Homo sapiens: one gene and its partners. The protein of the gene in region 1 interacts with the protein of each later gene in a biochemical or structural test. Each region holds a gene or a part of one and is shown on either strand. Other genes may lie near its edges.

What was found.
Region 2: the proteins of DAB2 (region 1) and DAB2IP form a complex in vitro, tested with the Homo sapiens proteins (one study listed by BioGRID).
Region 3: the proteins of DAB2 (region 1) and APLP1 form a complex in vitro, tested with the Homo sapiens proteins (one study listed by BioGRID).
Region 4: the proteins of DAB2 (region 1) and DVL1 form a complex in vitro, tested with the Homo sapiens proteins (one study listed by BioGRID).

The regions. Positions count from the first base shown.
Region 1 is NC_000005.10:39,421,962-39,428,857, reverse strand, and holds the start of DAB2 (disabled homolog 2), read left to right. Parts: upstream 1-3,877; 5' UTR 3,878-4,054; intron 4,055-6,896. UniProt on the Homo sapiens protein: Adapter protein that functions as a clathrin-associated sorting protein (CLASP) required for clathrin-mediated endocytosis of selected cargo proteins.
Region 2 is NC_000009.12:121,759,613-121,766,633, forward strand, and holds part of DAB2IP (disabled homolog 2-interacting protein), read left to right. Parts: intron 1-272; coding exon 273-827; intron 828-3,892; coding exon 3,893-4,037; intron 4,038-4,122; coding exon 4,123-4,267; intron 4,268-6,881; coding exon 6,882-7,021. UniProt on the Homo sapiens protein: Functions as a scaffold protein implicated in the regulation of a large spectrum of both general and specialized signaling pathways.
Region 3 is NC_000019.10:35,864,070-35,871,575, forward strand, and holds the start of APLP1 (amyloid beta precursor like protein 1 isoform 1 precursor), read left to right. Parts: upstream 1-4,504; 5' UTR 4,505-4,567; coding exon 4,568-4,714; intron 4,715-5,022; exon of another isoform or gene 5,023-5,288; intron 5,289-5,597; coding exon 5,598-5,741; intron 5,742-6,826; coding exon 6,827-6,959; intron 6,960-7,167; coding exon 7,168-7,280; intron 7,281-7,506. Other genes in the region: KIRREL2 (kin of IRRE-like protein 2 isoform c precursor), read left to right, coding at 579-644, 2,088-2,423. UniProt on the Homo sapiens protein: May play a role in postsynaptic function. The C-terminal gamma-secretase processed fragment, ALID1, activates transcription activation through APBB1 (Fe65) binding. Couples to JIP signal transduction through C-terminal binding.
Region 4 is NC_000001.11:1,339,398-1,346,418, forward strand, and holds part of DVL1 (segment polarity protein dishevelled homolog DVL-1), read right to left. Parts: intron 3,362-7,021; coding exon 3,292-3,361; intron 3,088-3,291; coding exon 2,966-3,087; intron 2,760-2,965; coding exon 2,656-2,759; intron 2,409-2,655; coding exon 2,270-2,408; intron 1,107-2,269; coding exon 1,013-1,106; intron 920-1,012; coding exon 850-919; intron 782-849; exon of another isoform or gene 781-781; coding exon 641-780; intron 416-640; coding exon 339-415; intron 312-338; exon of another isoform or gene 253-311; coding exon 185-252; intron 43-184; coding exon 1-42. UniProt on the Homo sapiens protein: Participates in Wnt signaling by binding to the cytoplasmic C-terminus of frizzled family members and transducing the Wnt signal to down-stream effectors. Plays a role both in canonical and non-canonical Wnt signaling.

The DNA of each region.
Region 1 (6,896 bases):
AGTCATTCTCCATTGACAGGCATATTTTGTCCTAGCTTCCTGCTGCTATAAATGATACAATTAACAACCTTGGGGGCAGGGAGTGGTGGCTCATGCCTGTAATCCCGGCAATTTGGGAGGCCGAGGCGGGTGGATCATGAGACCAGCCTGGCTAAGATGGTGAAACCCCGTCTCTACTAAAAATACAAATACAAAAATTAACTGGGCATGGTGGTGGGCACCTGTAATCCCAGCTACTCGGGAGGCTGAGGCAGAGAATTGCTTGAACCCGGGAGGCGGAGGTTGCACTGAGCCGAGATCTTGCCACTGCACTCTAGCCTGGGCCACAGAGCAAGACTCCATCTCAGAAAAATAAAAAAAAAAAAATCCTTGCATATTATACATGTGCTTTATTTCTAGTGGATAGATTCTTACTCCTAGGATAGAGAAGTGTATGTGTTTGCTACAATAACAATTAATATTAGTAATTCCTGCAGGGTTTTATGTATTTTCATTTTTGATAACTCCTGCTAGGTTTCTTTCCAAGTAAGACAGTATTTATTTGAATGGTAATTTTTATGGGTATTTACTTGCCTTTCACAATTTCTCATTATAAAAATTTATATTGATAAGTGAGGTGTAATTAGTTATATACATTTATATTATTGAATTTTAAATGTTCTTCATTTTACAAGTACCAATTTTTCCAAGTACCCTAGTAGTCTACCACCTGAGTTTCATTAAAATTGCACAAAACAGAAAAATACATATTAGTTCTGAGATGCTATAGGGGTATAAGCAAGAAAACAAAACACAAACAGGCTGCCTTCTATGAAACTATCTTCCAAATATTTTAGATCAGAAGATGGACAGGTAGATGGATAGACAGAGATATGAAAAAAAACCTCCAGTATTTGTTTTGACTTGCCAGCCACCAAATCTGGTAGGGTCAGTTTTTCTGTAATGTTAAATATGCAGGACTGGTCAAGGTCAAAGAACATTTTCTGGGAACAATAGCCATTCTCTTCATTGTTTTTTTAATGACATGGAGAAGGAAAAAAAAAAAAGGAGAGAGAGAGAGATGTGACCTTACTAGGTCCACTTCAACAAATCCTTGTTTGATTTTAACATCTCTAAGTGTCCAGCAAGGCATCAAAGGCACACAGGCAGTTTACCTTACAGCCAGTTCCAAAGTGCCATTTACAATTCAGGAGAAATGACAGGCTTCAAAAGGGGCAGTTTAAGGAAGACAAGAGCAGTAGAGAGGGGGATAGAAGAAGTGATGGAGAAGGAGGAGAGAAAGGATAAAGGATTAGGTCTGTGAGCTAACAGAGGAAAACAGCTTAATTATGGAAGAAAAGACACATGCATAGGATAGGTCGAACAGGCAGAGTTGCTGTGGAAGCACATTCCAGGAAAATCTTAAGAGATTACTTTAATAATAAACCATGCATTCTTCAGCAAGCCATCACGGGATTAACTACCCCTTTCCTAGGCTGGGAGCACAGTCATTTGTTTTATTTTATTTTTTCCTTCTCTCTCACAGGCAGGTTTTCTGCAACGGACAATTGCCATTCAAAGACTATTGTTTTTCAAACATTGAACTGACTTTTCCTCCCCTTAATTTTCTAAACATAAATTTCAGTGGTGATAAGAAAAGACCATTATTTAGGCAGGGTAAATATCTGGGTGGGCTTTGGCGTGATTCTCCAGAGGGAAAGATGTTCATTTTAGACTTGTTGAAAAGTGAACAACTTAGATGAGACAGAGACAATGTTTCACGAGGGATAAAAAGAGTTAAATTTCTTTTCTTTTTTTTTCTTAATGTGAGCAGGACATTGAATTACTGCCAGAAGCAATATCGGTGCCCTAGAGATATAAAAATACAGTTCAAACCAGAATTCTCCACTGTCGACTCTTCAGATTTCTGTGCAAAATAAGAGGTGTCTATTTTAAGTTGTAAGTGTGAGCCCACTGCTCTTAAATGAACTGTTTTCATCAAAGTCTTCTCTTGAAACTACAACTCATAGCAGATGAAATCATTTTCTTCCTCTGGCTTCTTAGACAAATCCCTTCCATTTGGTGGGGTAGAGCAAACATAAGTTAGTATTTCTTGGTAAGAGTCTTTCAAAAAAAAAAAAAATAGAATTGAGTGAGCACTTCTTAGTCTAGAAAATATTACATATTGAGGTTAAAAGAGACACCCATGTCTTTCTAATTATCAAAGTCTCTATTTGCCTGAAGTCAGCAGCCCTTTTTCCAGCTACCTAGCCAATAGAAATGAAACTGGACTTCTAGATTTTAGAAACAAAGCCTTGTGTTCTAAAATGTACTAGAATTACATTTCTCTGCATAAATGTTATAAATAGAATACTATCCTAGGACTAAAATTTGTATACTTCCTGTCATTCACACAAAGTCATTTTTTAAAATAGCAAATTACCTCTGAGGAATATTGAAAACTGCCAGCATGGCCCTCCCTGCCTCCACACCCCTAGGTGTGTCAGGGGATGAGAAATAGTAGAGGCTGGGGAAGTAGAATTCTGGGCCAGCTGTGCTGCTCTGCACCCCTCAGTCTCCCCGAACAACGGTTGTTTCAAGCCTGACCTACTTGAGAGCAGACATTGCCACTCACATTGAGCTACCCCAAATTACACAGTGGCTTTGCAGTCGAGGCTAGGCACGGACCACAAAATATATCCTTGATGTCCCACGAGCCCTATTTGAACCCTCAGTTTCCAGAGGTAAAATGCAAATCCACTGTGTTGCTTACTCGATAAAATCAATAACCCCCTCCCATCCGAGATACAATTTAGCATTTTCACATTTACTACGTGCTGCCTCTGACTTTAAACAATTAAATTTTTTTCTTAAAAAAAGGGAAAAGAGACACGTCTTTCACAAGAGTAATTTCAGAATTCTCCAAAAAGCAACAGAGCTTCTGTGGATGTTTTACAATAATTCTTGATTTTAAAATATGGAGAAAATGAATTCTCAGCTTGTTAACACTCATTAGGATTTGCTGCGGAGTACCTTCTACCGCTCAGCACTCTACGTTAACATTTTTAAATATTTTATTTCTTGCAGTTCATGTTTTTCCTAGAGTTATAGGAAGTGCTATGGAAATTCATGCAGATAAAGTCATGTTATGTGTCTACATATAGGTGTATATACACTGTAAGGGAAGCCTGTATAGAATCTCTGATTGTATCAGAATTATAACTTATTTGATAGGCTACATAGACGTGAACATGTTTTGCTCATATCGATTTCAGAGAGAATATTATTTTTATATCCATATATATGATTATATTTCATAGGTAAATACAGTATGTTTCACATATGCACACATAGATTTCCCACTAACTTAAGCGCATTTGCATCTGCAATGAGGGAGACACTAATTTCTTCTAAGGGGAGCAAATCCAATCGCGCGATCAACTTTAGAAACTGCAGATCTGCGCAGGAACCGTTGTCCCTTGTCAGAAAAGTCAGGAGTAAAGGCAGTCCTTTGTTCAAAGGGCCCCAACGGGTTGGTTAGGATGACTCCGTGTGCCACATCACTCGCAGTGGCAATCCAGGGAACGGATCTGTGAAACGAAGCTCGGTGGATCCCACCCCTTTCCTCCAGAGCTTCCCTTTCCTGTCCTTATTTGCACCCGCCCCCCGCCCGCGTCGGTCTGGGGCTTTTGACTTCTCCCCGAACACATTTCCCCTCCCGTCGCTGGGTCCCTGCGATCGCCCCCAGCTGGTGGGGCTCGCGGAGCTCAGGGGAGCGGGGTCCTCTGCGCCGCTGCAGCGCGAGTTAATAAACAGTTAAGTTTGGAAGACTCTGCAGACACGTTGAGGGGGAGTTACCAAGCCCAGGCAGCAAAAACATCCTGGCACATTCCTGGGGAGTCCTCAGCTGCCAGCATCTGATTAGAACCATATCTCTCGCCGGGAGTGGCCGCGCGGCTCCGAAGCTCCCGGCCGGCGGCTATTTAAGCGAGGCCCGCCGCATCCGCTGCGCTGTAGCCTGGAGGCTCCGGGCGCGGGGAAGTCATGCTCGCTTCACGGAGGCAATAGCTAGCCGGTGAGTAGCTTCGAAACCCTTCTTCCCTCTGGCTCCATTTTTTTTTTAAAGATCTCCTTCTCTCCTTTGCTCCCCCTCTCTCACCCCCCCGCCCCCCGCTACCCTTCTTTGAGTACAGACCTTGGGCTGTGGGGAATCTTAGAAATGAGACCCTGTGCTTGGGGAAACCAGCAGTTTTGTGGCCTGACATCTGAGGAATGCTTCCGCGGAATGTATTTACCTTTCGAATCCGACTCCAGATGCCCAGCTTGTGACATTTAACAAACGCCTCCTTTTGTGTCGTGTGTGTGTGTGTGTGTGTGTGTGTGTGTGTGTGTGTGTGTGTGTGTGTGTAAAAGGTCTGCGGGCAGCCCTCCTAGGACACTGAGGTGGCTGCTGACCGCCTAATTAACTCCTCGAAGGGTGTTTATTTTTGCTGTGTGACAAAGGCTGGGGACCTGGCTTGTGCCCATAAGGAGCTTTTTCCTGGTGACTGACAACATATGGCATTAAAATGTGAACTTTTGTCTTACACCGGCATTCCTAAGGAAGTATCTACCCAAGGGACTTAAGAAACTTGTTTTATATCCCCCGGCGCAGGGAGCATGGTTTATATGGTGCTTGCCTGCCTGTTGTAAGCTGGTTAAAAAGATTAAGTAAGAATTCTAAAAAAGGGGGGAAAAATGAATGGGTTAAAACCGTGGAGCCTCAGTCAACATAGCGGTTTTCATAGCATAGAGCTGACTCTGTTATTTGTTTCTGCTGTCTTTCCCTCTTGACTTAATTCTGAGCCTGGAATTCTGGTCCGCAGACAGTTTCAGCAGGGAGCTGAGTCCAAAGGGAAATTCAACTGGATTAAAAACACTTAAGGAATCTGGGTGTTATCTCCACCCCAACCACCCCCCACCTTTTCCCCTTTCTTTTTAGTTTTTGTTTGGAAGGAAGAGAGCCGCTCTGTAAACCGAGAAGAGCAGAAACAAGCTTCCAGACACATGGAAAGACTTAAAAATTATGGAGGGGCGACTTCACGAATAGTAAATGTTGCTATTGCTCTATAAAGTGACTTCATGAAAAAATTTCTGGCCTTAGTCAGGCAAAGCAGGGGCATGGGGGAGAAGGAGGTAAGATATAACTAATGCAAACAGAAGTAATGGGAGTGGAAAGCAGGCATCTACAAAAAATGCCTTTGAGATGTCTGATAAGCCTCTTGGAATGGCTTTGATGAGATGTATACTTGATTGTCCTTACAGTCTTGAGGTTGGCTTCTCACACAAAAGCACCTACTGGCTGTTGGGGAGGAGGGAGCTTGCAGCTACCAAATGGCTTGTCACCATGCTTCTTACCCCAGCAGCCAGACTTTGGGAGGCTACTTTTCTCTGAGCCAGGTGCCCCGCCCACTCCAGGTTCTGTGTCTCCCCTCTTGGAAGGGAGATGGCCCTCAGTGACACTGTAAGAAAGTTTATTGCCTTGAGAATTCGGGAGTATTTGAGTACAATGGGAAAGTCTTCTAGAGAAAGCATGAAGAAGACCTAGTGGTCTTTGCCAATGTGGATTTCTGGGACAGACCACTTCTTCCAAATCCTTAGTCAGTTTCCTCCTAAGGCCAACTAAATTCTTTTTCCTGTTGTTGGTGAATAACTTCCCCCTTCTTTTCCCACTCCCAGCTGGAAGGATCCCTTCTCATCCAAATGACTGACCTAGAAACCAGTCATTTTTCAGCTATGCCCTCCTATGCTTTAATGTATAACCAGAATAAGTAGATGGTAGAGGAATGTCTTCCAACTTTGAGCCCATACACGTATGTATTTGCCATTCTGGGGATCTTTGATCTTGATGGTTGATCTTTACCTGAGGATGTAAGTGAGGGAAGAAAGCACTTGTTACAAACCTTGTCTAATTTGTGAAGGGCAAACTCCAGAGTTTGTGTTTCTGCTAAAGACTTTTATAGTTTCAGATTAAACTGGAAGTCCAAATTCCTGTGCATTAGGCCTGTTTGTTGTCTTTCTCCAAAGGTTGAATGGATTTCACTGGCCTTGTTTGGGTTGAAGGGTACGGCTTTTAAGGCACTTGTTGGCATGAAGGTAGTACAGGGACCTCTGGCAGCTGCTGACCAGCTGTTTGGGGATGATATTTACTGGCCTGCTCAACCAGGCCTCGATTATCTGAAGGTTAAGGGAGCAGGAAGATATCTTCCTTGCTGAGTGCTCCTGGCCAAGCAGGAGGCTTTGCTGTGACATAGGCTCTTATGCTGCTTCATTTCTAACTCTACCCTCATATGTCCATAAACCTAAGTTTGCTACCACTGATATTTCATCTGGATAATTTTGAAGGCTCTGCGTGTTTCTCTTCCTCATTCTTTTGACCTGAGGATTTAATTATTGCTCTTCTTAAAGACAAAGCCAAGATGCTGAAATGCTTGGGAAAGCTGCTGAGAGTGAGCCCTCCTGGGGTTTGAAGTTGTCCTAATGCTCATCAGAACATACCTCCCCAGCTGGAAAGATTCGAAAGCTTACTGGCCAGGAAGGTTTAGGTAACTAACCAAACACATAAGGTTTTTTACCCTTTAGACAGAACCAGAATGGGAACCAGATTGGCAATATGAAACACCTGAGTAACAGGATGTGGTATTTTAAAATTCTCCCTGGCACTGCTATGTAATTCCAAAGTTGAAGCTGTGCCGCTGAATTGCACAAAGGTTGGCCAAAATCATATTTAGGTGAAACAGATTTTTGTTTTGTTTTGTTTTGTTTTGTTTGAGACAGAGTCTCCCTCTGTTGCCCATGCTGGAGTACACTGGCATGAACTTGACCCACTGCAGCCTCTGCCTCCTGGGTTCAAGAGATTCTGTGACCTCAGTCTCCTG
Region 2 (7,021 bases), on another chromosome or scaffold:
GGGGGTTTTACCTTAGTGCCGTTTCATAGACAAGCAACCCAAGGCTCCAGTTAAGTTGCTTGCCCAAGGTGAGTGAGCTTCTGTGAGGTCGACCAGAGATCCAGCCCTTGTCCATCATGCCCTGCCTCATCCTGACTTAGGGCCTAGGCGCCCGCTGCCGCCTCCACCTTCAGAGCTCCTCCTGGGTCTGAGGACTCTCTCAGGCTCTGGGCTGGTTGGGGGTTGCACGTGGCACCCCCAGCTGACCACCCTGGACCCCCGTGCACATACAGGACAACAGCCGGCGTGTGGAGCACATCCTGAAGCTGTGGGTGATCGAGGCCAAGGACCTGCCAGCCAAGAAGAAGTACCTGTGCGAGCTGTGCCTGGACGATGTGCTCTATGCCCGCACCACGGGCAAGCTCAAGACGGACAATGTTTTCTGGGGCGAGCACTTCGAGTTCCACAACTTGCCGCCTCTGCGCACGGTCACTGTCCACCTGTACCGGGAGACCGACAAGAAGAAGAAGAAGGAGCGCAACAGTTACCTGGGCCTGGTGAGCCTACCTGCTGCCTCGGTGGCCGGGCGGCAGTTCGTGGAGAAGTGGTACCCGGTGGTGACGCCCAACCCCAAGGGCGGCAAGGGCCCTGGACCCATGATCCGCATCAAGGCGCGCTACCAAACCATCACCATCCTGCCCATGGAGATGTACAAAGAGTTCGCTGAGCACATCACCAACCACTACCTGGGGCTGTGTGCAGCCCTCGAGCCCATCCTCAGTGCCAAGACCAAGGAGGAGATGGCATCTGCCCTGGTGCACATCCTGCAGAGCACGGGCAAGGTGAAGGTGCGTGCAGGCCCCTCGGCTCCTGACACAGGCTGGGCGGCAGCACTGGGTTACCTGCCCTTCCTCACATCCGTACATTTCAGGCCTAACAGAGGCCTTGGAGGCACCGGTCACTACCAGAAGGGCTCCCTAAACCCAAAAGTTCTATCGTGGGCTGGGGGTTTTGTACTCCTGCTCTGTGGCTGGAGCTGATCACTGAGGCCTGTGTGGAGCCAGTGGATGGGATTGCAGCTGGTAGTGAGGGAGTGGGCTTGGGTTGAGGTGCCTTCCACCACTGCTGCAGAGGACCGACCCCCTGAGGCGCCAGGGGAACAGGCTGGGTGGCCACGGCTCTCCCAGCACACAGGTCCCACAACGCCACCAGCCGCAGTGAGCCAAACACACGTCCCCTGTGGGGTATGGAGTTCGGCAGACCTCCCCAGCACGATGCACAGATGAGCCTCCCTCACAGCTCTACCTCACCCCACACTCTCACCCAGACACACAGATTGTCACACAGGTAGACACAGTCAAAATTGTACTATTCGAGGGTTAGCCAGCCCCACCCCAGAGCCTCACAGAAGCGGGAATCGTCTGAGACCCACCCAGGCAAGTCCTAGTTCAGGGCCAGAGGTGCTCAATGTCCATCTCCATGACCCCTTTCACCTTCCGCTCCCGAAGATGGGCCCAGCAGCCCACCATGCAAGCCGTGCCTCAGCCCCACCTACCCGGTTTGGGGACAAATGGGCTCCTGGACCAGGGTGCCCCTAGGAAGGCAGTAGAGCATGGTCTGTGGGCCTCGAAGGCGACCTTCTCTCTTTACATTTGCCACCTGCCATTCAGGAAGCTGGCCAAAGAGGGTGGGAAAAAGGGGCTGGACTTGAGGCCTCTGCAGCGTGGATGGACCCTGGTGCTGGGCTAAGGACTGGGCCTCTGCCCTCTGGACAGTGGCGTGTTGTGAGCCAAGTGGCAGGTGGCTGAGGGGCACCCTGTGTCAAGGTCCTAGGCCCTTAGCTCTGGGTCGGGGAGGCACAGTTGGGAGCCATACCCCAGGGCAGAGTCCAGGGCACAAGACTCGTGGAGGTCCCTCACCCTCTCACCTGTTCCTAGAGGCCCTGGAAGGGGAGGCCATGGCTGGAAGCCTCAGCAGCCTCTGCAGCCCCCCTCCCTCTTGCACTTGCTGTATGCTGCAAGTGCAGGGCTGGGGCGGGGACCTCCTCCCCATGGACCCGCGATGGGGAGCAGTTTTCCTCTGTAGTGCTCAGCTACCTCCTCCCTCACCTTCTCCCCCAGCCTTCAGACTTGGCTGGCTAGGCTGCACGTTGGGCCAGCTCTGGCTGCCCCGTCCTTAACATGCTGGTCAACACTGGGGACGTATGCTGGGAAACGGAATGAATCAAGGACCCATGGGCACCAGAGAGGGAGTGATGGGGGCTGCAGAGGCTGCATTATTTTCTGCAGTTGTGTCTGATGTTTCAGTACCTGGTTCCCAGGGCTGGGCTGGGGCTGGCCTGGGAAGCGGATTCCTCCCTGAAGCAGCCTGAAATGATAGGTATGTCCAGGTGCTCGTGGAGGGAGGTGAAGTCAGGGCTGCAGCCAACCCCAAAGGCCCTCAGTGGGATTGGGGAGCAGTAGATAGAAGCATAGAAAGTAACTTGTGCTGCTGGGGTGACAGGTACCTAAGCCCCCACCCCTGGAATACTTGGGAACTAGCCCCTCTTCCGTCTCCACGGCTAGAGGAGTAACGGAGTCTGGGAAGCAAGGGACTTGGACCAGATCTGGCCCCAGGTGGCTGTGTGGCCTTGGACAAGTCATTTTCCTGCTGTGTGTGCATTGGTTTCCCCCTTATTGGGTCCTGGCTCTCAGGAAGTTCTCATCCCAGCACTGGGGCCTGGCTCTCATTGCGGGAGTTCAGGAAGGCTGCAGTCCTGAGCGGGAGCCCTGGAGGAGCCCCGGGGGAGATGCACCTCTGACCCCCGCTTTAGTGTATTCAGAGAATGAGACCCTGGAGGTCGCCTGCTGGTCAGGAAGGGGTCCTCAGGCCACATGATCCCCAGGAAGCCAATGACAGCTTCCCCTTTGCCCCTGCTGTCCCTCTGTGCCTCTGCTGTGCACCCTGGGTTCCTGTGTCTAGATCTCAGTTCTGTTTTAAAGGACCCCAAGGTCGTGCATGTCGGAGTGAGGAATTTCTTGAGCACAGATGCCTGGGTCCACCCCTCCTGGGCACCTTGCAGGCTCTGTGCTAGGTGGCCCCCTGCCCTGACTGTCACCCTCCCTTGAAACTATGACAGTTTTTCCTATTTTCTTCCCCTCCCCCAAGCCACAGGTTAGTTGTGAGCACAAGGAGGTGGGGGCTTCTGAGGGAGGGTGTTAGTATCTGCATGGTTGCTAGAGTAGGGGGAAGGTGTGGGTTCGGGCTCCTGTGCTGGGGTTTTCCCACAACACTGTGTGTGGGACCTGATGGGCCTGGGGCTGCTACCCTGGATTGCCAGGTGGGCAGTGGCGCCTCCACCTTCCCTCTCCAGCCAGTTGCACATCACTTCCTGCTCTCACCTGCCTGAGCATGGTGGCTCACGACCTCCCCGGGCAGTGGGGCTGCACAGAAGGCATCTGTGTCTGGTGTGGGAGCCCCCACCAGAGTCATAGGTGGATACTGATGGCCATTCTTACCATGAGACAGGGCAGCCTCATTTGTCCTCTTTGGCACTGATGGTGCGGGGAGAGGCGAGTCCTGCTGTGGTCACCAGGCCAGGCCTGATCAGGGCTGTACATGGAAATGAGTCCATTCTCTGTGGTGGTGGGGGCTTGTGGCTCCACGTGGCATGCTCTCATTCAGGCTGCCTCCATCCATAGACCCGGCTCTACTGTCACCAGTTCTAGGCTCCTACCCTGGCTGGGGGCCCCTGCCCTGCCCACACTCCCCAGCAGCCCCCAAAGGTGGGCACACTGTTCCTCTCCGGGACCCCCGCAGCTTGGTGATGGAACAGCCTCAAAATGCCAGGACTTCTCTGGCTAGGTCTGGAATCCTAGGGCCCTCCATGCCAGGCCAGCTCAGGTCCTGCTCTCTCCACCTCCTGCCTCCCCAGGACTTCCTGACAGACCTGATGATGTCAGAGGTGGACCGCTGCGGGGACAACGAGCACCTCATCTTCCGGGAGAACACACTGGCCACCAAGGCCATTGAGGAGTACCTCAAGCTAGTGGGCCAGAAGTACCTGCAGGACGCCCTAGGTAGGGAGTGGGCCAGCAGCAGGGCAGAGGGTGGGGCAGGGCCCGCCAGGTCCTCACTCCCCACTCCCTGCCCACTTGTCCATAGGTGAGTTCATCAAAGCGCTGTATGAGTCAGATGAGAACTGCGAAGTGGATCCCAGCAAGTGCTCGGCCGCTGACCTCCCAGAGCACCAGGGCAACCTCAAGATGTGCTGCGAGCTGGCCTTCTGCAAGATCATCAACTCCTACTGGTCAGTGCGGTGCCCAGGTCTCCCCACCCTGTCGCCTTCCCCATCCTGTCCTTCAGTGTCTGGCACCCGCAGTGTGCCTGATGCTGCCTGGCCCCTGAGTTGTACTGACTTGCCAGTCCCCTGGCCTAGTCCCTTTTGAGCTCTCAGGTGGGGCAGCGTTCAGCATGTTGCTGTGGTTTTGTGATGGAAAGAACCTGGACACGCCAGTCTGCCGTCTCTGGTGATGAGGGAGCGCCCTTCATGTGCCGGGGGCTATTGTGGGTGCTTGGGCTGCAGCGGGAGTGAGACTGGCAGGCCCTGTGTGGGCCCCCACTTGGGGTGGGCGGATGGCTTCACCTGAGGCTCCTCACCTGTCCGTGGGAGCTAAGGTGCTCATGTCACAGCCTTGTGATGGGGCCAAGCAGGGGCACGTTGGGGGCCTGAGCACCAGGCAGGCCTCTTGCTGGGACTAGAGAATAAACAGAAAGGACTAGACTTTGAAGTAGAACGGGGTCTGCAGACTCTGCCAGCCCCAGAAAGCAGCAGGGCATGCAGCAGTGGGCTGCTTAGACAGGCCCCTCAGCAGGACCGGAATCAGTCCCGGAGAAACTTGCGGTAAGGCCGACTTCACGGCCACCAGCTTGCTCCTGGGATATATGTGTGTGATGGCCAGCCAGCCTGGTGCCGAGTATAGCCTCGTTCTGTGGTGGCACACAGGACTGTGCGGGAGGGCCTTGCTGTCAGCCCAAGCAGTGGGTTCATATTCACCCCAGAGGAGCTGCCCAGGTTTAACCTGTGTCCCCCTCCAGCTCAGGGCTTACAGCCCCCACCCACCCAAGCCTCCGTCCACAGCCTGTTCTGACACCACTCTCTCCCCGGCCTTACCTCACTCCTTGTTAGGTTCATCTCTTTCACTCACCTGCACCTTCCCCTGCATACACTCCTGCCCTTCCTGCTCCGAGGCCACACCTGGTACCCTCTGTCGCAGCCCTGATCCCATCAGGATAGGGTTGTGCCTGTGCCTAAAACATTTCCTGTGAATGCTGGGGCACCCTGGGGGCAGGTGAGCCCACCACCTCAGGACTGGGCACACAGGAAGGCCAGAGAAGTGTTTGCTGCTCCCCAAGGACAAGAAAAGGCAGGGGGAATGGGCAGGCCAGGAGGGTTGGCACCCAGGGCCTTAGCCCCTGGGCTATACAAGGTGCTTGCCTGGGCCAAATGGGCACCTCAAGATGGGCCACAAATGTGCAGCTTTCCACACCCCTGGGCCGGTGGAGGAGAGCGACTGTAGGGCCTTGAACTCTGGGAACACACTTCCCATTCCCAGCTGGGCTGTGCTTTCCCCCTCCCCCTCTTCCAGGGGGGCTGGGCATGTGACTCAGGGAAAACATATTTGTGGACAGTGATTTTCCATTTCCTCTTTCTGGCATTTATCAGAGGCACCTCTCCATTCTGGACAAGGCCATTGATAGATGTCACCACTCAACACCTGCCCCCTGTCCAGTTCTGTGCCAGGCACTGTGAGAGCCACGGCTAAAGGTGGCTCACCTTCATTCCCCGCTAGGTGTGCCCTTGATGGGTCAGCCAGCATGCATTGCAGGAGAGCCTGCTGAGCAGGCTGCTGGGCCTGTGGGGGAAGAAATTTCAAGTTGGTCAAGCCTGTTGTAGCCTTGGGGTTTTAGCCTTACGATGGCTCTGTGAGCTTGGCAGGGCAGGCCTTGCTCTCAGTTTAGGGGAGAGAAAACCCAAGCCTTCCAGGAGGGCTAGGGCCTTGGTCAGATCACCCTGAGCTCATGGCAGAGCCAAGTGTAGACTGAGTTCACGGACCACTGGGGCCTGGCCTGCCCCAGGCTGGGAGATGCATCTTTTAGGGAAAAAAGATAGGAAACCCACTTAAGGGTTGGCCAGGTGGGCCTGACCATGGCAGGCCAGGATGCCCAGTGGAACCAGGAGCCCCATTGTCTAGGGCCAGCTCTGCCGGCTTGCTCCATCACCCTGGGGCAGTCACTACCTCCCTTTCCCTCCCCATGTAGAGAATGGAGAGCTGTGTTGTCCCACCGTGTTCAGGGGTAGTCCCATCTTCTTGATCTTTCTGAGCTTTTAGGAAATCCTGGATTCCTGTGACATTATTCAAGCAAAGGAAATTAGTCTCAAAGCCAGTGATGGGAACCCAAGGAATAGTGGTCTATTCCTGTTTTCCTCACTTCCCCCTAGACCCAGATGCCTGCTGTTTGGGTTGAAAAATGAAGTAGACACTGGCAGAGAGGTGGGGAGGGCCCAGACCAGAAGCTGGAGAGGTGGTTCAGCACTGGCCCTTGGCAGTTAATTCCGGTTAGGACGGAGAGCCAGCTCCTCATGCCTCCTCCCATCCCACCTGCCCGGCCCTTCACTGAGAACCCACTGCCCGATGGGAGCCTGGGTCTCCCTGCTCCTCCTCCTGCCTGGGCACTTGCTCCAGCCACCCTGTATTGACTGCTCTCCCCAGATGGCTGTGTCCTCAGAGCTCAGACAGCGGGGCTGACCTCACGCAGCTGGCGGGGTAGAGCCAAGGTTGGAATGCAGGTTCCTGCTCTGTGCACTCCTGTCCTGGGCCCCTGCCTGACAGCCAAGCCCACCTTTGTCTGTCCCTACACAGTGTCTTCCCACGGGAGTTGAAAGAGGTGTTTGCCTCGTGGAGGCAGGAGTGCAGCAGTCGCGGCCGCCCGGACATCAGTGAGCGGCTCATCAGCGCCTCCCTCTTCCTGCGCTTCCTCTGCCCAGCCATCATGTCGCCCT
Region 3 (7,506 bases), on another chromosome or scaffold:
CGGCCAAGGGCTCTAGTCTTAACAGTGACCCCACACCCAAATGTCACCCAAGTCCATGCCCCTGACCCAATTATTCCCTAGGCCCAGTATGTCCCCACAGCCCGTTTTTGTTGTTGTTGTTGTTGTTGTTGTTGTTTTTGAGATAGAGTCTTGCTCTGTCGTCCAAGCTGGAATGCAGTGGTGCAATCCAGACTCACTGCACCCTCCACCTCCCAGTTCAAGTGATTCTCGTTCCTTAGCCTCCTGAGTAGCTGAAATTACAGGTGCCTGCCACCATGCCTGCCTATTTTTTGCATTTTTAGTAGAGACAGAGTTTCGGCATGTTAGCCAGGCTGGTCTCAAACTTCTGGCCTCAAGTGATACTCCTGCTGCGGCCTCCCAAAGTGCTGGGATTACATGCATGAGCCACTGTGCTGGCTTCTTACAGCCCTTTTATTGTCCTGAGTGCAGTCCCCAGCTCTTGGGTGCTCTTACTCCCTCCTGCCTGGCCTCCACTGGCTGGCTGAAGGTCCTTGGGGTCTGGCATTGGGGCGGGGGGATCCTCTGACTATTCCCTCTCACTAAGTTCCCTACCCCAGGGCCCCATTGTGCACACTGACCACAGTGATCTGGTTCTGGAGGAGGAAGGGACTCTGGAGACCAAGGTGAGTGTTGAGAGGGGTGGGGCTCCCTTCACTGTTGGGAGAGGCGGGGCTCCCTTCATTGTGTTTCCGTCTCTCTCCCACGCCTGTCCCCTCCTTTTTCCTTCTGTTGTCCTCAGAGTTGGGACTCAGCTCCCCACCCCACTCCTCCTGCCCCCTGGGCCATCTCACTCAGCTCCCAGCCTCAGTTTGCCTGTCTGCAGACTCTTCCCACACATCTGTCCCAGCCCTAGCCTCCATCTGGAGCCCCAGACCAGGGCTCACCCTGCCTGTGCTCTCCTCATCACGGTCAAGCCCCCTTTCAGCCACCAGGTCCTACACTGGCCCCACATCTCCCCAGACTGGTTCTTCCTCTGGGGTCCTACCTCAGGACAGCCACATTGACTCCAGGCCATCCCCAGGCCAGAGCACTTCTCTCTCTCTCTCTCTCCTGCGTACCTAGCACATGCCATTCTCTCTCTTCTTTTTTTTTTTTTTTTTTTTGAGACGGAGTCTCATTCTGTTGCCCAGGCTGGAGTGCAGTGGTGCAATCTCAGCTCACTGCAACCTCTGCCTCCTGGGTTCAAGCCATTCTCCTGCCTCAGGCTCCCTAATAGCTGGCTAATTTTTCTTGTATTTTTAGTAGAGATGGAGTTTCACCATGTTGGCCAGGCTGATCTGGAACTCCTGACCTCAAGTGATCCGCTCGCCCCAGCCTCCCAAAGTGCTGGGATTACAGGCGTGAGCCACTGTGCCCAGCCGACATGCCATTCTCTTGGCCTGAAACACTCCTACCTTCCTTCCCATGTCTACCTAATTCCTTCCTTTAGTCCTCCAGTCTCAGCTCAGACATTTCTTGTTCTAGGAAGCCCATGCTTCCGTCATGACAGCTCGATCATTTTGCCTGTGTTCCACCCATCACAGCCATGACCACTCTGATCTGGGCTTCCTTATCCCACCCACTATGCTGAGGGCTCTACCATCACAGCCCCTGTCATTGCCTATGCCTTTCCCAGGCACAGCCCTGACCCCTCTGGGTACTGTCTCATGATCTGTCATTTTTCCTTTGGTGTGGGATTCTGTGAGGACAGGGTCCAGTTCTATCCTAGTGACATGCCTTGTAGCAGCAACACAGGGTGTGACACTGAATCAAAGCCTAGAGGCTGTTGGGCAGGTGAGTGTCTCTCTCCTGTTCCCTCTGCACCTTCCACACCGACACCCCTCAGCAGGCCTATATCCCTCCGTCTCTACCTTTCTCTGCCTATGTCCTATCCATTTGCCTCTTATCACTGTTCCTCTGTCTCACTTTCTCTCTCTCCCAGTCCATGTGTGTCTCTGTGTCTCTGCCCACTCCTGTCTCTTTTTGTCTCTCTCAAGGTCTGGTCTATTTCAGTGTGTCTCTCCATCAGTGACCCTCATCCCCCCTGCACGCTCACAGACTTTACTGAGTCCCATTTGTCCCCTCAGGACCCAACCAACGGTTACTACAAGGTCCGAGGAGTCAGTGTGAGCCTGAGCCTTGGCGAAGCCCCTGGAGGAGGTCTCTTCCTGCCACCACCCTCCCCCCTTGGGCCCCCAGGGACCCCTACCTTCTATGACTTCAACCCACACCTGGGCATGGTCCCCCCCTGCAGACTTTACAGAGCCAGGGCAGGCTATCTCACCACACCCCACCCTCGAGCTTTCACCAGCTACATCAAACCCACATCCTTTGGGCCCCCAGATCTGGCCCCCGGGACTCCCCCCTTCCCATATGCTGCCTTCCCCACACCTAGCCACCCGCGTCTCCAGACTCACGTGTGACATCTTTCCAATGGAAGAGTCCTGGGATCTCCAACTTGCCATAATGGATTGTTCTGATTTCTGAGGAGCCAGGACAAGTTGGCGACCTTACTCCTCCAAAACTGAACACAAGGGGAGGGAAAGATCATTACATTTGTCAGGAGCATTTGTATACAGTCAGCTCAGCCAAAGGAGATGCCCCAAGTGGGAGCAACATGGCCACCCAATATGCCCACCTATTCCCCGGTGTAAAAGAGATTCAAGATGGCAGGTAGGCCCTTTGAGGAGAGATGGGGACAGGGCAGTGGGTGTTGGGAGTTTGGGGCCGGGATGGAAGTTGTTTCTAGCCACTGAAAGAAGATATTTCAAGATGACCATCTGCATTGAGAGGAAAGGTAGCATAGGATAGATGAAGATGAAGAGCATACCAGGCCCCACCCTGGCTCTCCCTGAGGGGAACTTTGCTCGGCCAATGGAAATGCAGCCAAGATGGCCATATACTCCCTAGGAACCCAAGATGGCCACCATCTTGATTTTACTTTCCTTAAAGACTCAGAAAGACTTGGACCCAAGGAGTGGGGATACAGTGAGAATTACCACTGTTGGGGCAAAATATTGGGATAAAAATATTTATGTTTAATAATAAAAAAAAGTCAAAGAGGCAAGTGTGTCTTAGGGAGTCTACTGGCATTATCACTCTCCACCAAGGAAGGGGTCCCTTAGACCTGTCCCAAGGTCCCTCCTCTACCCTAGCCTATGAGGTGGCTGTAGGAGTAAAACTGTGAGCCACCTCTCAGCCTCTTGCTACCTGCAAAGCACTCTAGGCTCTTTTTTTTTTTTTCTTGAGACAAGATCTGGCTCTATGGCCCACATTGGAGTGCAGTGGCATGATCTCAGCCCACTGCTACCTCTGCATCCTGGGCTCAAGCCATCCTTCCACCTCAGCCTCCCAAGTAGCTGGGACTACAGGTGCATGCCACCACACCCAGCTAATTTTTGTATTTGTTTGTAGACAGGGTTTCACCATGTTGGCCAGGCTGGTCTCAAACTCCTGACCTCAAGTGATCCGCCCACCTAGGCCTCCCAATGTGCTGGGATTACAGGCATGAGCCACTGTGCCCAGCCATGGGCTCTTTTAATATACATCTTCACACACACACACACACACACACACACGCACACACACACATGAGTTGCAAACAGAAAAGACACACACATAGGCATGTATGCACAGACACACGCATAGATGTCCACACAGTTGCACACAAGTGACAGGGCTGCCCCAGGGGTCCTGGGGAAGACTGAATTCTAACTCTCATTAGAGGAGACAAACAAGTGAGCCCTGAAGTGGAGCAGGGAAGGGGAGACTATGGGTAGGAAAATGGCAATCCCCTGGTCCTTACAGCAAGCGTGGAGATCCAGACCCTAATCCTGAGGTGCTGCATCCACAGTGGGCATGGTGCTGGTGCCTGCTTGGATGATCCTTAAAGAAAGGTCCTGGGGGCTTTGGTTCATGGATCCTTGAGCTAGGAGTTAAAGGTCCAGGCCCCTGGGACCCTTGGGAAGCAGAGCAAGAAGAGTGAACTCCTGGGTCTGAAGGAGAATGGGCTGGGGGCTTGGTCTCTGGTCCTGAGAGAGAAGGTGCCCAGACTTCTGGATCTGAAAGAGGAAGGGACTAGGTCTCAACTGCTGCCTTCTTGACTGGGGACATTTTGGAGGCCTGTATTCCTGAGCCCTCAACAGAGGAATGTACTAGGGGATGGGGGTCTCTGATGCTTGCATCCTTGGAAAAGGACAAAACTGTGAGTGTCTGGGTCTAAAGAGGGTGAGAGTCCTGCGGGAGGACTCAAAATCCACAACGGGCGGAGCCCATAGCCGGACTCCTGGCTGGGCCCTTCATGGGGCGGGACGCCTGGAATCTCGAGGGGCGGGGGCCTGGCGCAGGCTCCCGCCCGGGGTTCCCGAGCTGCTCCACTCTGCGCGAAGCCGCCACGCTATTGTCCTGACCAGGAAGGCGGGGCCGGCGCGGGGCGGGGCTGGCGGCGCCGGCGCAGCCCGGGGGCGGCGGGAGGAGGAGGTGGCGGCGGTGGCGCTGGGAGCTCCTGTCACCGCTGGGGCCGGGCCGGGCGGGAGTGCAGGGGACGTGAGGGCGCAAGGGCCGGGACATGGGGCCCGCCAGCCCCGCTGCTCGCGGTCTAAGTCGCCGCCCGGGCCAGCCGCCGCTGCCGCTGCTGCTGCCACTATTGCTGCTGCTTCTGCGCGCGCAGCCCGCCATCGGGAGCCTGGCCGGTGGGAGCCCCGGCGCGGCCGAGGTGAGGCCGGGCCGGGTCCTGGGGGATGGGGGAAGGGGCGGGACCGGGTCTCTGGACGCCGGCGCGGACATGTCCAGGGCAGAAAGCGCGGTCTTTCCAGCCAGGTGGTCAGCCCCCAGGCGCCCCCAATCACATTTATGAACCCAGGGTTCCAGGCCCCAGCTCCCCCATCATGCGACGTCCCAGCCCCCTCCCATCTCGAGCATAGGAACTGGTCTATTCAGAGCCCCTGGTCCCAGAAGTCCAGCCCCCTCTCCAGACCCAGGTGACTCGGCCCCAACCCCCTCCCGCCTGGACATAGGACCCACCAAGCAGCGAGGCATTTAGATCCAATAATCCAGACCCCTTGTATTCTCTGGACCCATATGGAGGCCCTTGCAGCCTCCCAGGACCCAGGAGTCCAGTCCTTCAGTCACCACCCACCCCAACCAGATGTAGCTCTCCAGTCCTCAAGGACCTGGTGTCCAGGACTGTAGGCCCCTGAAGCCAGGCCTTGTCAGCTTTGCATCCTGCAACGGGAGCCTGAGCAAGGGATGGAGGGAGGAGGGGCCAGAACTCCTGGGTTCTGGCCTCCTCCTCCGCGATTCAGGTTTAACCCCTTCGGGCTCCAGAGCGGCTGCGCTGGGGTGGGGGCGGAGTCTGTCTCCGCGGCAACAAGGCAGAAAGAATCCCGGGGGACCCAGGTCGCCATAGCAACGGGAGCGCTGGGGCGCCCCCGCCCTACGGGAGCTGTTTCCCAGGGAACGGTGCCTCCATGGAGGCGGTGTGCGGTGCTTGGGGGAGGGGGCTGGTGCTGGGGGTCTCGGTCCTAGGGAGCAAAGAACCAGGGGACCCTCATGCCAACGCCCCCCGAGCCCTCACTGTCCTTTCCACTTCCATCCAGGCCCCGGGGTCGGCCCAGGTGGCTGGACTATGCGGGCGCCTAACCCTTCACCGGGACCTGCGCACCGGCCGCTGGGAACCAGACCCACAGCGCTCTCGACGCTGTCTCCGGGACCCGCAGCGCGTGCTGGAGTACTGCAGACAGGTGGGCGGGGCCGAACGGGAGAGGCGGGGCCGCCCATAGAAAGCTAGACTTGAAAAAGGCGTGGTCCAGGGTGCTGCGCGATCTAAGGCGTGGAGGCTGGGGGGCGTGGCCAATAAAGAGGCGCAACTATGCTAGGGGCAGGGGACCTGTTTTGAGATACTAAGTCAGGAAAAGGGGAGAGCCGCGAGATAGCCAGAGAGGAAGTGGAATTTAGGAATCTGGTGGTCTTTGTAAAGAGTAGAGGTGTAGGGGGGAGTGGCGAAAGGATAGGCGGGGCTAAGACAGAAAGAGACCTTAAGGACCAGCAAGATGGGGAAAGGGGTGGAGCCCAATGAGAGCGCGGAGAGCTGGGGGGGCGTGGCCATGAAAAGACAAATTTATAACGGGAAGGGAGAGTTTTGGAGAGGCGGAATAGAGGAAAAGGCGGGGCCTAAAGGAGGGTGAGACCTTTGGGGAGACGAATCTGACTGCGGGGAGGGGTGACCAGAGAGGTGGGCTTAGAGGGACCTTCAGAAAGAAACAGCACAGGAAAAGAGATAGGGCTTAAAGATGACGGGACTTTTAAGGGAAAACTGCTAGTGGGCGTGGCCAATGAGCACAAGGAGCTTGGATATCTAAGGCTGGTGCTAGGGAGAAGCAGGGCCTAGGGAAGCGATGTCCTCATGAATACTAGAGCCTTGAAAACGGACCTGGCCGGGCGCGGTGGCTCACGCCTGTAATCGCAGCACTTGGGGAGGCCGAGGCAGGCGGATCACCTGAGGTCAGAAGTTCGAGACCAGCCTGGCCAACACGGCGAAACTCCGTCTCTACTAAAAATACAAAAATTAGCCTGGCATGGTGGTGCGTGCCTGTAATCCCAGCTACTCAGGAGGCTGAGACAGGAGAATCGCTTGAACCTGGGAGGAGGAGGTTGCAGTGAGCCGAGATTGTACCATTCCACTCCAGCCTGGGCGACAAGAGCAAATCTCCGTCTCAAAGAAAGAAAGAAAGAGGGAGAAAGAAAGAGAAAAGGGACCTGACTACTGGAGAGGGGTGGCTGGCAGGGGCGGGGCAGTGGGCTGATTGCCCCCATCTGATCCCCCCAGATGTACCCGGAGCTGCAGATTGCACGTGTGGAGCAGGCTACGCAGGCCATCCCCATGGAGCGCTGGTGCGGGGGTTCCCGGAGCGGCAGCTGCGCCCACCCCCACCACCAGGTTGTGCCCTTCCGCTGCCTGCGTGAGTCCCAGGCGGGGAGAGGGGAACTGAGGTGGGAGTTTCTGAGGGGCAAGGTTCTGAGCCCCTCTCTCAGGCCTACATTAAGGGGCTGGGTGCTTGTGTCCTAAGTGGGGCAGAGAAGCCTCTGAGGATAAAATATCTGGATTCTGAGGAGGGTGGGGTTGGTGGCTATAGGAGGATCTCACCCTGGTGTCCCGTGCTTCCCCAGCTGGTGAATTTGTGAGTGAGGCCCTGCTGGTGCCTGAAGGCTGCCGGTTCTTGCACCAGGAGCGCATGGACCAATGTGAGAGTTCAACCCGGAGGCATCAGGAGGCACAGGAGGTCAGGACGTTGGCCCACCCGTCCCCAGCCCCCACAACCCAGGAACTGGGACCTCTAACACCCTCCGCCACCAGAACCGAGGAGTCTGGGCCACCAGCATCCTCTTCGCACTTGGGATCTAAGAATTTCATCCCCCAACCCCTTCCTCTAGAAGCAGGAATCCAGGCTCCCAGCCTCATCAACCCCCAACCCTGGCAGCCCAGTTCCCCATCTACCCCCTCCCATC
Region 4 (7,021 bases), on another chromosome or scaffold:
GGGACAGCCAGGCGGCGGGGTCGATGGGCCGCACCGGGTCAGCTGGGTGGCCGCCACGTGGCGATGACAGGCGGACAGATGGACAGGGTGGGAGGGCAGGGTGCAGGGCACAGAGGAGAGAGGCCTTCAGGCTAGGTAGGCGCCCCCTCCCCATCCCGCCCCGTGTGCCCCGAGGGCCACTCACCCCGTGGGACGGTGAAGTAGCTTCGGGGCGTTGGGTCCCAGCACTTGGCCACAGTGAGGCTGATGGGCCTGCAGGAACGGTGGTCACACAGCAAGGCCCCCATGGTCCCACCTCCCTGCCTGGCCCCTCCCGCTCCAGCGCCCCCAGCCCTCACCCCGTCTGGGAAACGATCTCCCGCAGCACCCGCACGGCATCGTCATTGCTCATGTTCTCAAAGTTCACGTCATTCACCTGCAGGGGTGGGGATTAGGGTGGTGCAGGCAGGATGTGCAGCTCAGTCCACCGCCCCCGCAGACCCACCCACAGCCGCATGTCCCCCAGCAGCCCCCGCAGACCCACCCGCAGCCGCATGTCCCCCAGCAGCCCCTACAGACCCACCCGCAGCCGCACGTCACCCCAAAGTCCCCACGGACCCACCCGCAGCTACATGTCACCCCGCAGCCCCCACAGACACACCTGCAGCAACATGTCGCCGGGCTCGATGCGGCCGTCAGCGGCCACAGCCCCGCCCTTCATGATGGAGCCAATGTAGATGCCGCCGTCTCCACGGTCGTTGCTCTGCCCCACGATGCTGATGCCCAGAAAGTGATGTCTTTCTGCAGGAAGAGCCATGAGCCGCGGCCAAGCCCCTGCCCCTGCCCCCAACCCTCGCCCCGAGGCCTCACCCATGTTGAGCGTGACAGTGACGATGTTGAGGGACATGGTGGAGTCGGTTATGCTGCTGAAGGAGGAGGCCTATGGAGGAGAGGGGGCGTGTGTAAAAGGCACGGGGCTGCCCGACACTGACTTCGCCTCCCCAGCCCCGCCCTGCTCCACCCGGCTGCCTACCCGGTCCGCCTGCCGAAGGCGCTGCTTCCTCCGCCGGCGTTTGTGCTTCCGGATGAGTCTGGATGAGGTGCTCTGCTCCGTGGAGCTGCTGAGCCTGGGAACAGACTGTCAGAGCTCAGAGGAGCTGGAGACATGGGTAGGGGGGTGGGAACCCGCTCCCCCAATACTGAGTGGGAATCGGGGGTCTAGGCCAGGCTTGTTCCAAAGCAGGCTCAGTGCCTGACGTCCACGCCCCAGGCCCTGCACACGTGATATGCATATGAGCACACACGAAAATCCCAGAGACAGGCAAACTGGGCACAGACACATGTAGCCAGATCCACTACTGACACACCTGCACACATGCACACCTGCACACACATGCACACCTGCACACACGCACCCCTGCACAAGGCACACATGCACACACCTGCACACACACCTGCACACACGCAACCCTGCACACATGCACCCCTGCGCACAGGCACACATGCACACCCCTGCACACGCACGCATGAACACACGCACACCTGCACACGCATGCACACCTGCACACACGCACCCCTGCACACTACACACCTGCACAGGCACACATGCACACCTGCATACTCACCTGCACACGCACCCCTGCACAATGCACCCCTGCACACACGCACCCCTGCACACACATGCACACCTGCACACACGCACCCCTGCACACAGGCACACCTGCACACACCTGCACACGCACGCCTGCACATGCACACCTGCACGCACACCTTCACATACACCTGTACAAGCACACCTGCACACACGCACATCTGCACACGCACACCTGCACACACGCACACGCACACATGCACACACCTGCGCACACGCGTGCATTGTGAAAACGCTCACGTGCACACTGTGAAAACGCACCTCACACACACATACATGCACACACAGACATGCGCATCATGTACATAAACGTTTGCACACAGGTACATGCACAGACACATCCGCAATGTGAAAACGCCTCACACAGACACACATGCACAAGCAGACACGTGCATCATGTACACGTTTGCACGCGGGCACACACACAGGCGCGCACACACGTGCACAGTGAAAACACCTCATGTGGAACACGTGCACAAGCACACGTGCATCATGTACACAGACATTTGCAGGCACACACATGCACACACACGCACACACGTGCAATGTGAAAACACCTCATGCAGACACATGCACATCATGTACAGACATTTGCAAGTGGGCACACAGGCATACACGCCCACAGACACTCCCACACACCTGCTCGTGCTGCCATCCTCGTCCGAGTCCACAAAGCTGCTGGACTCAAGCTCGCTGCTGAGGGCGGTGGACGCGCTGTCTGGGGGCAGCCCCACATCCCGCCGTCGGTCTCCCCTTGGGTGCCCATTGGTCCGGGCGGCTGTGGGGGCAGCAGGTTGGGAACTGACTGCAGGGTCTCCCAGAGGTCATGGGTTTGGGGCTGCCTGGGCAGTGCTGCATGCCTGTGGGTCTGGGAGCTGGCAGCTCAACTGTAGGCTCGCTGGGCCTGTGCCTCCACCCAAGCACCGCCACTGGCTGGGGGACAGGAACTGCTGTAGTAGGAACATGGCTCATGGGGGTCCCAGGGAGGCTGGGGGTCCACAGCTGGGCAGACATGACCACTGTACCCTCCTCGCGGTTCCGGCGTCGGGCACGCTCCCGCCGGTGACTGACCATGGACTCCGTGCCTGTCTCGTTGTCCATCCCGTCACGGCTGCTGGCCACATTTGGGCTGTGCAACAAGAGCAGGGTGGGTGGGGAGGCCGTGGCCCCAGCCCCTCAGATGCCGCCCAGCCCAGCCTCCCCTCGCCTGTGGGACCCCAGCCCCAGCAGGTGCCACGCCCGCCTACTGGCCCAGGCAGGCCTCCCTCCCCTGTTGGCCAGCAACCCCCATGACAGGCTTGGGGTAGCAGGGCCCAGCGCCCACGGTGTCCTTACTGGAAGGAGGGGGGCCGGGAGTCCCCGATGCCGCCTGTCCGCTCAAGAGGCGGGGGCAGGTCTGTGTGGCTGTCCGTGCCCTGGGACCCCGCATCCGAGTGAGCACCCTCAGCCAGGACCAGCTGTGGAGGGAGCAGGCATGCTCAGGGGAGCCCACCCGCCTTCAGGACGCCTCCTCAGGGCACCCAGGGAACAGGGGGCCAGCAAGCTGCCCTATCCGCACCCAGCCTGCCAGGGCCTCCCCACACCCACCGCCTCCCCCAGGAAGAGCCCCACCCTGGAATGCTCCCCAGGCGAGCCTTCGGGGCCAAGACACAGGGGCTCACCCAGGAGACCACGCGGCCGTTGAAGCAGGGAAGCTTGGCATTGTCATCAAAGATCTCCTCCTTCACCACCCTGTGGGCATATGCTGCCGTGAGGCCCCACCTGGGGGGCCCAACCCTGCGGTTCTAGAGGTGAGGCCTGGAGAGCAGGCGCTCCTCCTGCCCACACAATGTCACTCTGTGGACACCCCTGCTAGCGCATTCTCCTCTTGGGAACCGTCCTTCCTCTCCGTCACATCCTGGGCCCCCACCCCCCCAGCATGGGGCCAGTCACTCTGCGGACACCCCTGCTAACGCACTCTCCTCTCGGGAACCGTCCTTCCTCTCCGTCACATCCTGGGCCCCCACCCCCCCAGCATGGGGACAGTGGCTGTGGACATCCTCACAGGGGCAGCTCAGCCAAAGGCTCTCAGTCCCCTGCAGCGTTGGTCCCCAGCCCCCAGGTAGGAGGACAGCTAGGGTGAGGCCTCCTTGGGAAAGCCCCCGTGCCCAGCTGCCCTCGGTTCATGTATGTGGTGGCCCCAGACGCTGTCTCCAACCACCCCCACCTCATCTGTTCCTGGGGCTTGGAGCCCCCCCCCCCCAGGGCTTCCCCCACACTGGGACTCCTCAGGGCCAGGCCCCAGCCTCCTCAGCAGCAGCAGCTGCACCTACCGGGCCCCAAGGCTCCCCAGGCTATTCCCTGTCCCTTGCCCCAGACCTCAGGTCCACCGCTCCACCTCCCAGCCAGCTCCAGACCAGCCGCCCACCCCTCAACAGCCAGGGCATCAGGCCACCTGCACCCACCCCTGCACTCAGACCTGTCATTCCCAACCAGGAGCCCAAATCCCCCAGCAGCCTCCTCTCCATCATGCCAGCCATGCCCTATGGCCCTACTCCACCCTCCTGGCGTCTCAGGAGCAGCCTCAGGTCCCAGGCCCTGTGCCTGCCTGCCCAGGGTCAGGCTCTGTGAGGGCAGGGCTTTGCCTGACCCCTGCCCTGCACCCCTAGTCAGGCTCACAGTCCACCTACAAGGACTCTCAGACCCGACGGACGGACGTAGGTGGGCTGGGAGGGCCCACAGGTCCCCAGAGGCCGCCCACCACCCTCCTGTCCTGTCCACCTAGCCAGGGAGACAAAGACCTCCACTCACCAAACCTCCCTGCACCTCAGGACCTAGAGGGGCAGCAGGGGATGCGGAGCCGGCAGGGCCCCCAGGAGAGCAAGCTGGCCAGGTGCCTCACCAGTCCACCCCCAGGTCAGATAGGCTTGGGAACGGGGCAGAGGGCACCCAGGCAGGCCGCAGAGGGTCAGGGGACACGAACCAGGAGGAGGCCGGGTGACCCGAGCTCAGAGTTCAGAGGGCAGGGTGGCAACCCACACGGCACAGAGGGGATGGCTGGGCAGGGGCAGGTCCCCAGGCCAAGGAGCAAGGCAGGCAGGGCTGTGGTCGACACTCACACTGTGACCTCTGAGGGCCCAGGCAGCAGGCTGGGTAGGATCTGGACGCCGCCTCGTGGCACCCTGCCCTGCCCAGCAGCATTTTCCACGCCCGGGACTTGGGCCCAGTGGAGAAATAGGAGCCCGGAGACGGGGCTTGGCCTGGCCGCACACCTGGCAGGAAGCGGCCTTGTGGCTGCTAGTCCCACTGCGAGCTACAGAGCCACCCCGACTGGCCGCTCCAGGTCCCCTGACCCCGGGGCACCTTGACTCAGCCAGACTCCGAAGCAGTAGGTAGCAGGAGGCCCCCGGCAAAGTGGCAAACCCACACTCTCACCCAAGCCCTGGCCCACCCACTTGCTGGGAAGAGGCCCCAAGCCTCAGGGCAGAGTGGACAGCAGGCAGGGCCAGCCCAGGTGGGAGCAGGGACCCCTACCTAGCCCTCTGGGGTCCTGCAGCTGCCTCCCCAGGCCACCCAGGGCCAGGCCATGAGGTAGACGCCCCCAAAGAGCAGAGAAGGTCACTTCTCAGACCCCTCCACGTCTGCTGCCCCCACACAGGAGCCTTCCCAGGTAAGACCATGACCCCATGCCAGGCTGAGGCCGCCACAGTGAGAGGCTGTCACACCTGAAAGGCTGGAGCAACCCAGGGTGAGGCGGGCCCCACGGACACCGAGGCCACCACTAGCTGCCGCCAGGGGGCCAGGGCCCACAGTGAGCCCTTGTCTCTAATGGACCTGACCACAGCAGAGCCCCTGGCAGGGTCCCCACCTCAGTCCCTGACACACGGCCCCAGGTGGCCTGGCCGGCAGCTTCTCCCCTGCCACACCCAACCCCAGCACCCTCTGACTCACCTGAGGGAGACACTCAGTCACCCAGCACCCTCTGACTCACCGGAGGGAGACTCGGCCACCCAGCACCCTCTGACTCACTGGAGGGAGACTCGGCCACCCAGCACCCCAGTACAGCACCCGCCTGGCTCCACCGGAAGAGGGCCCTGCCCCCTCCCACCATCCAGAGTGGCCCAAGCCCGCATGGCCCACCCAGCCAGGGCCTCACGAAGACCCCAGGCTGCCTGGGATGTCCCTGCCCCCTGCCCCCTCACAGATGTCCAGCCAGGACCCAGAGGCCCTACTCACTCCGCCCTCTTCAGCCCAACAGGGTGTAACAAGTCCTCCCCTGCCCCCAGTGGCAGGGTGCAGACCCAAGCCTGGCTGGGCCAGGAGAAAGGGAGCAGGACCCAAACAGCACAGAGGGAAGGGTGGGGTCTGCCTGGGGCTCCAGGGATCAGCTACCCAGGTCCCAGGCAGAGCCCTGCCGTCCCCACCCCAGCCAGATGGGGGAGGGTGCTGGAGGCTGGCCAGGCATTGGGGGCGTACCCACAACCCGGGGTCCCCGCGCCTCTGTAGCAGCCTCCGCTGAAACTCACGGCAGCTGCCAGGGGCGCCCCTGCCGGCACTGTGCCCCCACCTTGGGATTCCCTGTGAGGCCTGGCTAACCTGTGTGCTGCCCCCACAGACCCGCCCCGGGGAGGAATCCACTCAGAGGCAGCGCCCTGGGAGCCAGCATGGCCACACAGGATGCAGAGAACCCTCCAGACTCCCAGAGGCCACAGCCAGCTGCCCTAGACGTGGCGTGGTCCCGAATGCACCCCATTCTCCCAAGGCGGAGCAGGAAGCTGGCAGGGGTAGCTGGCCCAGGACAGGCGGTGCAGAGCCATCCTGTGCCCTCAGAGCCCCCTGTGCACGCCCCAGGTCAGGGCCCTCAGCCTTGGGGGTCTGTGGCCTCCCAACCCCTGACCCCAGAGCCAGGGGCTCTCCACCAGCCTGTCCCCTGGGTGGTGCCGAGTCCTGGGATCTCTCTGTGCCCCTCCCCCGGTTCAGGACACACAGGCTCAAGTGTCCCTGCTAGGCCATGGCTATGAGTGCAGTAGGTGAACTGCCTGGACCCTCCCAAAACCAGGGAGGCACTCAGGGCACAGAGAGGCTGAGTCACAGACCCCAAGTGGCACAGCCAGGGAGGGCGGAGTGGGAACTCCCCCCACAGCCCAGGCCAGGCAGAGCCTCCCCAACTCCATAGCTCCCCACAGCACCACCCAGGACACAAGGAGCTGTCACAACACCGAGGCCCATGGCAGGCGGCCCTGGGGACCAGGGCTTTGGGCCCACAGCCTTGCCTCCACCCATCCCCCAGTCCCAGGCCTGGGTCACCCCCACCTCGGAGATGAACTGTGGGAGCTGTGCCCAACAGACAGCCTCGGTGCCAAGTCCAGCAGGCCCAGCATCCGCCACGCACCCAGCAGTGGGGACCCGGAG